Regions from separate parts of the Homo sapiens genome. Here regions 1 and 2 are each reported to be linked to region 3. The links are microRNA targets in miRTarBase. Many come from high-throughput screens and were not tested one by one. Region 3 holds a microRNA gene; each other region holds the end of a gene's coding sequence.

The links. The annotated mature microRNA hsa-miR-4486 reads GCUGGGCGAGGCUGGCA and lies in region 3 at 1,990-2,006, shown strand. An mRNA with a match to its seed (bases 2 to 7 or 8) in the 3' UTR can be bound and repressed. Matches are read on the target gene's strand: a 7mer-m8 pairs with bases 2 to 8, a 7mer-A1 pairs with bases 2 to 7 and ends in A, and an 8mer does both.
Region 1: miRTarBase lists ACVR2A as a target of hsa-miR-4486. Seed matches in the 3' UTR shown: 7mer-A1 at 302-308.
Region 2: miRTarBase lists TLN2 as a target of hsa-miR-4486. Seed matches in the 3' UTR shown: 7mer-A1 at 738-744 and 7mer-A1 at 1,357-1,363.

The regions. Positions count from the first base shown.
Region 1 is chr2:147,926,952-147,930,209 of GRCh38, reverse strand. It overlaps ACVR2A (activin A receptor type 2A), which reads right to left. Exons shown (of 11, transcript NM_001616.5): 11 at 1-3,130. The coding sequence ends at 2,936. Among named protein-coding and RNA genes, the nearest start is that of ACVR2A, 84 kb to the right of the region's middle.
Region 2 is chr15:62,839,882-62,843,092 of GRCh38, forward strand. TLN2 (talin 2) reads left to right here. Exons shown (of 59, transcript NM_015059.3): 59 at 601-3,211. The coding sequence ends at 729. LOC105370854 (a long non-coding RNA gene) reads right to left here. Exons shown (of 7, transcript XR_007064671.1): 4 at 2,919-3,211. Among named protein-coding and RNA genes, the nearest start is that of MIR190A, 18 kb to the left of the region's middle.
Region 3 is chr11:19,573,325-19,576,582 of GRCh38, forward strand. MIR4486 (microRNA 4486) reads left to right here and starts at 1,986; the gene lies at 1,986-2,048. It also overlaps a transcript of NAV2 not described here.

The DNA.
Region 1 (3,258 bases), not on the chromosome of region 3:
TGATTCTATTTTAAATTCCAAAGGTGTTGGGTTTTTTCCTGATTGTATTTTCAAAACATCACCATGAAAGATAGATAGTGCAAGTTCATGGGACTAACAATCGTGAAGCACAGTCTCTTTTTCTGGAATTCACAAGGTACCTAGAATTCAAACAAGAATCACACATCACATGCTAAAAAAACTTCTAGCATCTAAAATACATACAAGAGCTGTGCAGGGCATAGACTTCAAATAAAGCCGAACACTGGTTAATCCATCAGTCCTATGGCAAGTTGATCATAAAGCATTCCTTACGCGGAGATCTGGGCAAGGTAAAGAGTATAAGTTAGAGCAGCAGCAGTTCTGATGGGTATCAGAAAGGCAAAATACAAGACGAGTCATGAGGAGCACCATACACATGAGGAAAGAGTTATTTGGGGGGTCTCAGTTTGCCCCAAAATGGATCACCATTTTTCTCATTCTTTGATCTTTTTTTTTTCCAGTATCTCTAGCTCAAACTTTCTGTTAACTTGCCCACTCTGCACTGACTGTAAACCAAACACTAAATACCCTGCAAAAGAAAGTTTTAACAAGACTAGGTATAAGGACAGGTAGTCACTGGAACATTCTTATTTTACTGCTTATAAAAAGTTTTTCTATTAATAATAGTTCTCAAAAGAATACAAGTTTTAAAATTGGTTAGCTACAGTTAAATACAATACCCAGGATTTCTAAAAATTTTTTCTAACTTGAAAACATTTTATATTGTGAATAACTGGGTTTAAAAATTTTATCTCTAGTACTCACATAAGCCAAACATTCATCATAATATCCCTTGTTTATTTTTGTTTAACTTTTAAAAAGAAAGTTAAATGTTCACAACAGGTAGAAATTCATCTTCAGGAAATTAATGATTTTCTTGTATGCACATTCTCAATATTTTCCCTTCTTGATTAGTTTTTAAATGGAAGCAAAACCAGATCAAGAAATTGAGAGACCAAGTACTTTGTGAAATAAAGAGGTGAACTCAACATTGAAAAGGGAATTGCTAGGAATACAATGAATGAGACCATGGGGACACACGTGACAGTTCTGAATGGTCTGCAGCACACAGACGCTATTACTCTTCTTTTCCTCCCTGCTTAAAGTCTGTTGACCTATGTATTGTTTATAAATAACATAATTAATTTACTATTCCCAGAGATTACGTACATATATGTAAAATGTAGTGTACTGTGTGGTTAAATAACCATTTGAAGACAACACATTCACAGTGAGCTCCTGACAGTGACATGTAAAAAATTCTTTTATAAAATTAACATGGATTTTAAAATGACCTGACAGAAATACACAGCATAATACTGGCTATTTGTTGATTAATTGATTGGTAATCTGGAAATTCAGAAAATTAATGTTTTACTTTTTGGCCTGTATAAATTTGAGGAAGAATCCAATTGTATTCTAACGTAATATTGTTTTGAAAAGCACTTTAGCACCTGCCTACCATCAATTCCATTTTCTTAGCAAGGATAAGGCATGAACTATCCTAAATTAGTATCAGTGTTAGTTGTAAAAGCAATTTTGGGGAGGAGGCTAGGCTATGCTACCTATATCAACATTGGTTACCTCTAAATGTCATTGCATATTTTAAGTTATACGTTTAATTTGTTATCCCTGATTTGTTTTAAAGCAGTAACATCTGAAATCTGCTTAAAGTTTAATATCTTTATCCTAGGATAATTCTTTACATATCACAGACATCAAATATTACTCTGACAAGATGGCACCAAGCAGAAGTATAGTGATAAAGTTACAAGTCTCATAGCAGACAGTGGGGAATTCTGGGTAACGACACTTCCTGAGGTGATCCTAAAACAGTGATAAAGAATGTCCCACACACTGTTTGGTGAAAAGAAATACACTACAATTTTACATATATAAATAGAAAAAACTCTATTTTAAAAGATAAAATGAAGAGCTTTCCAGTGTCACAGCTCACTTTAAAAAATTTTAAATCATGCTTTAAATTTTCAAATATTCCCCAAACACAGCACACCTAAAAAAAATACTTAGGTAAGTATGCAAATTTTGGGAACTGGATATAAGATGGGGCTTTAAAACATGGGAAGAAGGGGGAAATGACACCATCTTTTCAAAAAACAGCACTTTTTTTCCCTACATTACAAGCCAGCACAAGAAATGCTAAAACACTGCTTTACGAATGGCCACTTATTGTTGGCACTAAGCATAGCTTACCTTTTTTTCCTTAAATAACACAGTGAATTTGTTACAAAACATGGATCGATTTATTATTCAAATTTTGTTAGTGTTTTCAATTTTATAATTTAGCAACCGTGGAACTGAGGTATACCTTGTTGAGGGAGGTTAAAGTAATGCTTGGAAGCCTCTTTACTGTACCCCACTTTGATGACTTTATGTACACAGAACAGCAGCACACTAAACATTCACAAGCTGTGTCATATTGGCATTACAATAGTCATTTATAGAAACAACAGCAAATGCAATAAAAACAAGTTACCCTTTTTAAAATCTGAAATGAAAAGTTTTTGATTTAAAAAAAATAGCAGTAGTTCATTTAAGGAATTAGTGTCTTCTGACAGACATTAAGAAATCTGATGTCAGTTTTCAAACACTCCATTAGCCAGGTCCAAAAGATCCTTGATTTGGAGAGGGCTACATTCTTCATGTACACTTTTTCAAAAGTTTCTTTATAGAGTTTGCAAGGTTTCTCTTAGTCTCATGTCCTTCACATCTGTGCTGTCGGCAATGCAGTAAGTCTCCCAGAGCAACATTTTTCAACAAAGGGTCTTCTTTCTTAACATTTCCAAGAGACATCCTACTCATTTTACACAGAAAATAAACTGTAAGCAGTTTCTTTAGCTTAGCAGCTCCAGTTCAGAGTCCCATTTCTTAGTGTGCACAGATGGCGCAACCATCATAGACTAGATTCTTTGGGAGGAAAGTCAACATTTGTCACCATTGTGACCACTGTTACAATGTCCTCTGTGGTAATAATATTTGTTAGTCTCTGCATCTGGGTAATTCTTTCACCTACACATCCAGCTGATAACCTGGCTTCTGCGTCGTGATCCCAACATTCTTCAATGGTTTCACAGAGCATTGCCATTCCCTAAAAGGAGAAAAACATATACTCAAACGCCACAGCAGTTTTTGTTTTCTATTAGGAAACAATAAAATTTTCATGAAGAAATGGCTATTTTTCTGGGTCAAAGAAGTTTCTGTCAACATTCACTTTTA
Region 2 (3,211 bases), not on the chromosome of region 3:
AGCCTAGTCAAGGCTCTGGAAAGCCAGGAAAGGAACTGACTTTGCTTTTTTGAACACAACTTTCCCTTTCCACACAATACCTATCAGCAAGTCTTCCTCAGATCACACCTTGAAAGCGTGAAATAAGCATTTGAGGGCCATCTGGTGGTCCAGGGCTCCGCTTTAGCCTTGCCCATACCTGGACCGGGTCTTCCTCCACTGGCTGGGTGACTCCAGACAGTGGACCTACATTGCTCAGCTTCAGATTTCTTCTTGGAAAAACAAGACTTTCAACAGGGCATGCTTCACAGGGCAGCCCCTTCAGTGAAGGGACTGTCTACGTGGAGTGTTTGCACCAGAGCCTGGTACATAGTAAGGCTGCAAGAGATGTTTGCTGTTCAATCACAGGCCAGAACCAGCGTGTTTTCATGGCTCAGCTGGGTCATTAGTCTCAAAACCCAAACAGTGACAGAGGCTGGTCGCCAGAGCTAAGAAAGCTGTTCCGGATGTGCTGCAGTGTCCCACGGTCGCGGGAGCCGTGGAGCTCACATGAGCAGTGGGGTGGGTCGGAGGGTTTTCTACAAAGTGTTAGGTCCATCCAGCTTGTTGCTTTCTTTCTAGATCATCGCCGCCCAGGAAGAAATGCTAAAGAAAGAGCGAGAACTGGAAGAAGCAAGGAAAAAACTGGCCCAAATCCGCCAGCAGCAGTATAAGTTTTTACCCACCGAGCTGAGGGAAGATGAGGGCTAAAGGTGCGAGCCCAGATGGCGAGCCCCAGGGGATGGCCCTGGCTGAACTGGACAGACAGTGTTCCTGAGAGGCTGGGCACTTAGCTGGAAACCGCCCACCTCCCTCCCGGGTGAGCCTGGAGCCCTGCGTGCTTGTTCTCACATCTCTGTCCCGTCGGCACTGGCTGCATGATCGTGATGTCACACGGTACAATGTCCTACCCACAACTCCTCTGCCGCCTCCCCTCATGCCTCACCGTGTCTCAGGAGAGAGGGGTGCACGTTTCATGGACTGTTACCAACAAAGAAAAGTCAGTATTATGTTGTTCTCAGACACTTTGGCTTTTGTTGGTCCTTCTCTTAGGCCTGCTCCTGGACCTCTTTATGATATTGTGATAGGGAAAAAAATCATTGACGTCATAGAATATTCTTCTTCCTCTCAGGAGAAGACGGAAGCTGGAGTTGGACATGGTTCATAAAAGCCAGAAACACAAACCCGTGTGGACTCCGGGAGGGTGACTCAGGTCCTCCTTCCATGTCTTGAGCACTGGCTCACCCAGGGGGTGAAAAATTCCCGCCCCTGTTTGCACGCTTTCTTGCCTCCGTGTGTAAGCTCCTTGTACAACCCAGACCCATCTTGTATTTTGTGGCCCAGAAAACTGAACGATTATTTTGTTCCTCCGTAGTCCAAAGGGCAGAGTTGCGGAAGGCCGTCGGGGCTTGGTGAGCAGGGGCTGTAATACAGTCTGTGGGCTCCTTACCCTGCAGAGGCTGTTTCAGCTCACACAGAGTCATCCACACAAACCCACGGCTCCCAGTTGACAGTCAGTGGAATGCTCGTCTCCTTAGCGTCCAGGGTGGGGATTCTGCTGGAATAAAGAGCTTCCTCAGTGACTCATCTTTAGGTCCCACGCTGGTTTCTGTGCCTTCAGAATGGTCACAAGCCCGGATTGGAAAGGATCTGCTTACAAACCTGTCCCCTGTCCTCCAACCCAAAACGCCTTTTTTTCTGTCTTAATATCCAGAAAATCTAAATGCATCCTAAAATCAATGTGAACCTTTAACAAGATAGTTTTACTTATTATCACATAAGACATAAGATGTTTTCATTTTCTGGATGTCACACTTCCAGAATTTCATATTTTTCCCCTCTTTTCTTTCCCCTTTTCAGAGCCCTCCCATAGGAAGGGAAGGGCTTGAATTTACCCTTAATCTGCACCTTTAGCCAAGGCAGTGCATGGAAGATGAATGGCTCGTGGGACAGAATCTAATGCCAGGGAGCAGGAGTGTTTGAAAGAATTCATAGTGGGGAAGGTAAAAGTTAATGGAAGTACATGATTTTCAAAACTGGTAACAGTTAAAGGCACTCACCCTCCGCCTCTCTCTCTCTCTCTCTCTCTGGTGTGCTATCATGTCTTGGACTCCATCCACACTATAGTTTCAAAGTTCCACTGACGGGGGAAAGTTGGTGCTTTGGTCCTCCGAAGATGTCACCTTTCGACCTTGCCCGATCTTGTTTCACCAGACTCTAGCCCATGTCATGGTTTTAAAATACATAAACTTCTGACAGCTTCCCATATTTATAAGTTACTTATAAGTGCTGCACGTATTAGAATTTTTTTTTTTCAGACCAGTAAAGTTAGAGAAAAGACGCTGTAAAGGAAAAGCAAGTGAGAGTATGTGTAGGACACTGACAGTGTGTGGGCACCAGTTCTGAAGAGGAGGGGAGCTGCTGGAGCCCTAGCCTGTTGGGGAAAAGCTGGCACACTCTTGGCTCGCCCTCTTTGAGTGGAGCTGATCCAACACCTCATGCCTGCCTTGGCCGGACACTGAGAGGAGGGGCACACGTGCTTCCAGAGACACTCAGGAGTCAGACCCCAATGCTCAGAGTCACAATGTGTTCATGGCCTCCTGTAACAGGACTCTGGGGATCCCCTCTGTGGCCCAGCCCACCCCACCCTCTGCTCTTCTATGCTGTGCCCAGGGCAGCTGCCCTCTTCTGCCTGTGCCCCATCCCATCCTGAAAACCCAGGACCAAGGCAGGGGCAGGCAGCCAGTTCTTCCACCTTGCCTCAGAGTCATTTAAAACCTTTACTGCATTTGATACCAGAAAAGCCTCCAGAGACAAACCAAATGCAAAGGCCTTTCCTTTATAACTCTAAAGAACAGGCATCGAAAGTTTATTTTTGTAGGAGCTATATAAATACTCACCTTTCTGGAGTCGTCCAGTGCTGGGAGCTTTGGGGAGTTTGGTTCTCAGTTATCACCTGGTATGGTCCCAGTTTCTCATCTGTCCTTTCCTCATCCACCCTGCACATGTGTATGTGAACGGCTTCGTGGCCGGTGTGGTGGTTTCTCATTTCATAAGATAGTTGAAGGGCCATGCCTTGTCTGGATGTTATTTAATAGGCACTACTGCGGTGTCCTCAGATGGTACTGAGGGGGCCTTCTGGTCCTTCAAAGGAAAATAACACAGGCATGAGTTCATTTGGGAGTGTGAACTT
Region 3 (3,258 bases):
CATACTATCATATTTGTTTTGTTGGTTACCCACTCCGAACTGGAAGGTCTTTGAAGTCAGGGATTTTGACCATTTTGTTAATGATGTTTTCTCCAGCGCTCAGCACACAGCCAAGCACATAGTATGGACTCAATGACTGTGGCATGCGTGAGTATATAGGTGGGAAGGAGGATTTCCTGGCGGGTTCTGATTTTAGAATTTACCTGGTACAGCTGAGCTTCACTGAGCTGCTACCCTGTGCCAGCCGCGGGCAGTGCCTGACATCTGCCATTTCACTTCATCTTCACAGAAGCCTTATGGATGGGAAAGCTAGGTCTTAGAGAGATTAAGAAACTTATCTGGTCACCAGCTTATAGGTAGGTGGTAGAGCCTGAGGACTGTGCTTTCTTCTCCTGGACAGAAAGTGCTGCCTGAGCCCTCCCCTGTACCCAGCCTGTCAGGGAGGCCTCCCTGGGTGGTTTCTGAGCTGGCTGCTTTGCAGGGCTAGAAGGCCCATCCCTCCTCACCTGCCTGTGTCTGTGGGAGGCTCTTGGCAAGGGTGCTGTGTCAGGCGGCCCAAGTGCTTTCAGCACTTGGGGGTGGCAGGCTAATTTACTGGCCTGCTGAGCAGCTGGTGGATGACTGGGGATTGTCTGAAGTCTGCCTAGAACCATGGCCTGGGGCAGGGCTCCTTCCAGCAACTTCCCTGGAGAGCTGGCTGCAAGGCAGGGCCAAACCAGCCATCATGATAGTGTGAAGGGCATTTTCTGTCAAAAGAGGATGTTGGACAAGAGTTGGAAAGACTTGAGTTCTGATCCTGGCTTTGCCACTAGCTAGTTGTATAAAACTGAGCAAGTTACTGAGCATTCCTGGTTCCCACTGCTTACAAAATGGGAGCAGTAATCATGCTTACCTCCCAAACTTGTTGGGAAAATATATGCAATGTGATTAGCCCAGGTGCAAAAATAAATGTTAGATATTTTATGTTTATTATGATTTATTATTAGCTACAGCCCCCCTCATCTGTAAAATGAGAGGTTTCATTCAGTAACCACAGGCCTGGCACTATTGAGCAGTAGGTGCTCAATAAATGTTAATTCCCTTCCTAGTCCCTTATTCTTCCTTTAGCATCAGATTCCTGGCCTGTGTTGTCCCTGGGGCTCCAACACTCCTGGCCCTGGCCTATAGGTTTTCCGTGGGCTCATGGGTAATGAGCCATCTTCCCAGGGCAGTGGGGCTAAGTGCTTTGGTGGACATTTTGGAGCCATTGTATTAGAAACCCCCTCTTTTTCCTTCTTTACTTCCTTCCTTCCATCCCGTTTATTTTTGTTGATCACCTATTAAGTGCCAAACATAGTGAATACAGCTGTGAGCAAGACAAGGTTCCTGCTACCGTGGAGCATAGGTCCAGTTAGAATTAGGTAGAGAGAAAGGAAATGAACAACCATGCAAGAAAATAAACTCTTTGAAAAGTAGAAAATAGAATGGTGGAACAGAAAGTGATGAGTGTGGGGAGAATAGCAAAGCCACCTTAGATGGGGAGTCAGGGAAGACATCACAAAGGAAACAACATTTGAAGCAGGACTTGAAAGATCAGAACAGGCCAACCATACTCAATTGGGCGAAGGGGTTTCCTGCCGAGGAAATAGCACAGGTGAAGGCCCTGAGGAGGGATGGAGTTTAGCTGGTGCCCCTATACTTCCTAATGGGAAGTGCCCAGTAAAGACACAGCTTTGCACTTCCAGCCCAGGCAAAGCAATCAGCCTGCATCTTCAAGGGTTGGCTGCACTTAAGATCCGGGGTGCTGCCAGGATGTTCTTTTTGCAGTTAATTTGCTGCAACTGGCAGAGGTTAATCATGTCCACATTCCTCAAGGCCCCTGCCAAAGCTGGCCCTTCTCACAGATGCTGGTTTAAATTAGAGGGGTTCTTAGCAGCAGACTAGATTTAGCAGTGATTAACCCCAAACTGGTCCTATTGCCTTGCCCTCCTGATGGGCAGGTGGAAGCATGCTGGGCGAGGCTGGCATCTAGCACAGGCGGTAGATGCTTGCTCTTGCCATTGCAATGAGAAAGGAGCCCATCAGCTCTCCTTCTAAGCCTGGGCTCCTACAGCAGCCAGAATGCCAGTCAGACCCATCCACGGTGCTCCACGCCTGGCCCTAGCCTTGCTCTTGCCTCTTCCTTGCTGTGCACATTCCTGCTCCACTCCACACCTTTGCCTGCCTTGTCTCTGTACCCGCAGGAGAAGCTCTACTCATTTTTCCAGACTGTGCTCAGATTCTACCCCCCTATGCAAGTACCTCCTCAGACACCCCTGGGGAAATTCACCTTTTCTTCCCCATTCTTCTAGTTTCTCTTTGCACATAAGCCCTTTAAGGCATTGGTCATCATCTATATTGTGTTGGGGAGACTGAGTTCCAACTAAAGTGGGAGCTCCCGATGGCCAGGGATCCATGTCGTTCATCTCTGCAGCTACAGGACCTAGCATGAGCTTTGGCATCTCATTCATTCAGCAAATGTGTATTGAAGGTCACTGTACCAGGCACTATGAGAGGTAAGGGAATCACAGCTGTGGACAAGGTGTGTTCCCTAGTTTTAAGTTGTAGCCCATTGTAACACAGAGGGCTGAGCAGATTACGGTGTGGACTCTAATAGATGCCCAGTTGAGCCTGGGTGGTTCAGGATGGCTTTTTTAAGTCATACAGAGTGAGGAATCTGAGGCTCAAAGGAGTGAAATAACTGGCCCAAGATCTCACATCTAGTGTATGGCAGAAAAAGTGCTCAAATCCAGGCCTAAGTGCCCTTTGCACACAGCCATTTGTGGAATGGGTCCTCCTCTGTCTACACTCTCCATTCCAAGCTAGCATACTCCTTTCTGATCCTCAGCCACAAAATAAACAGGTAAGGGATCAGACCCACTTGGCCAGAGACTGGGCAGCCTTGCCGCATTCTGATGCAAAAACCTGTTTTCAAGCTACTTCAAACTTTTGATGGTTCTTGAAGTCATAGAGAGGCTTTCAGCTGAATCCAAGGCAAGCGAACAGATTTCCCATCTGCAGGGTATTTTGAAACCACTCGCTTCTTACTCATGTTTCATTTGTTTGTTTTTCTATTACAAAAATAATGCATACTAATTGTAGAGAATTTGGGGAGAAATACAAATCACCCATAATTCCACCACCCAGAAATAACCATTGTTACTATTTTGGTATATTGAGATAGTTATTTGGGGATATTACTTAGAAATTGCTATAATATATAATTGCTGTTTATTAATT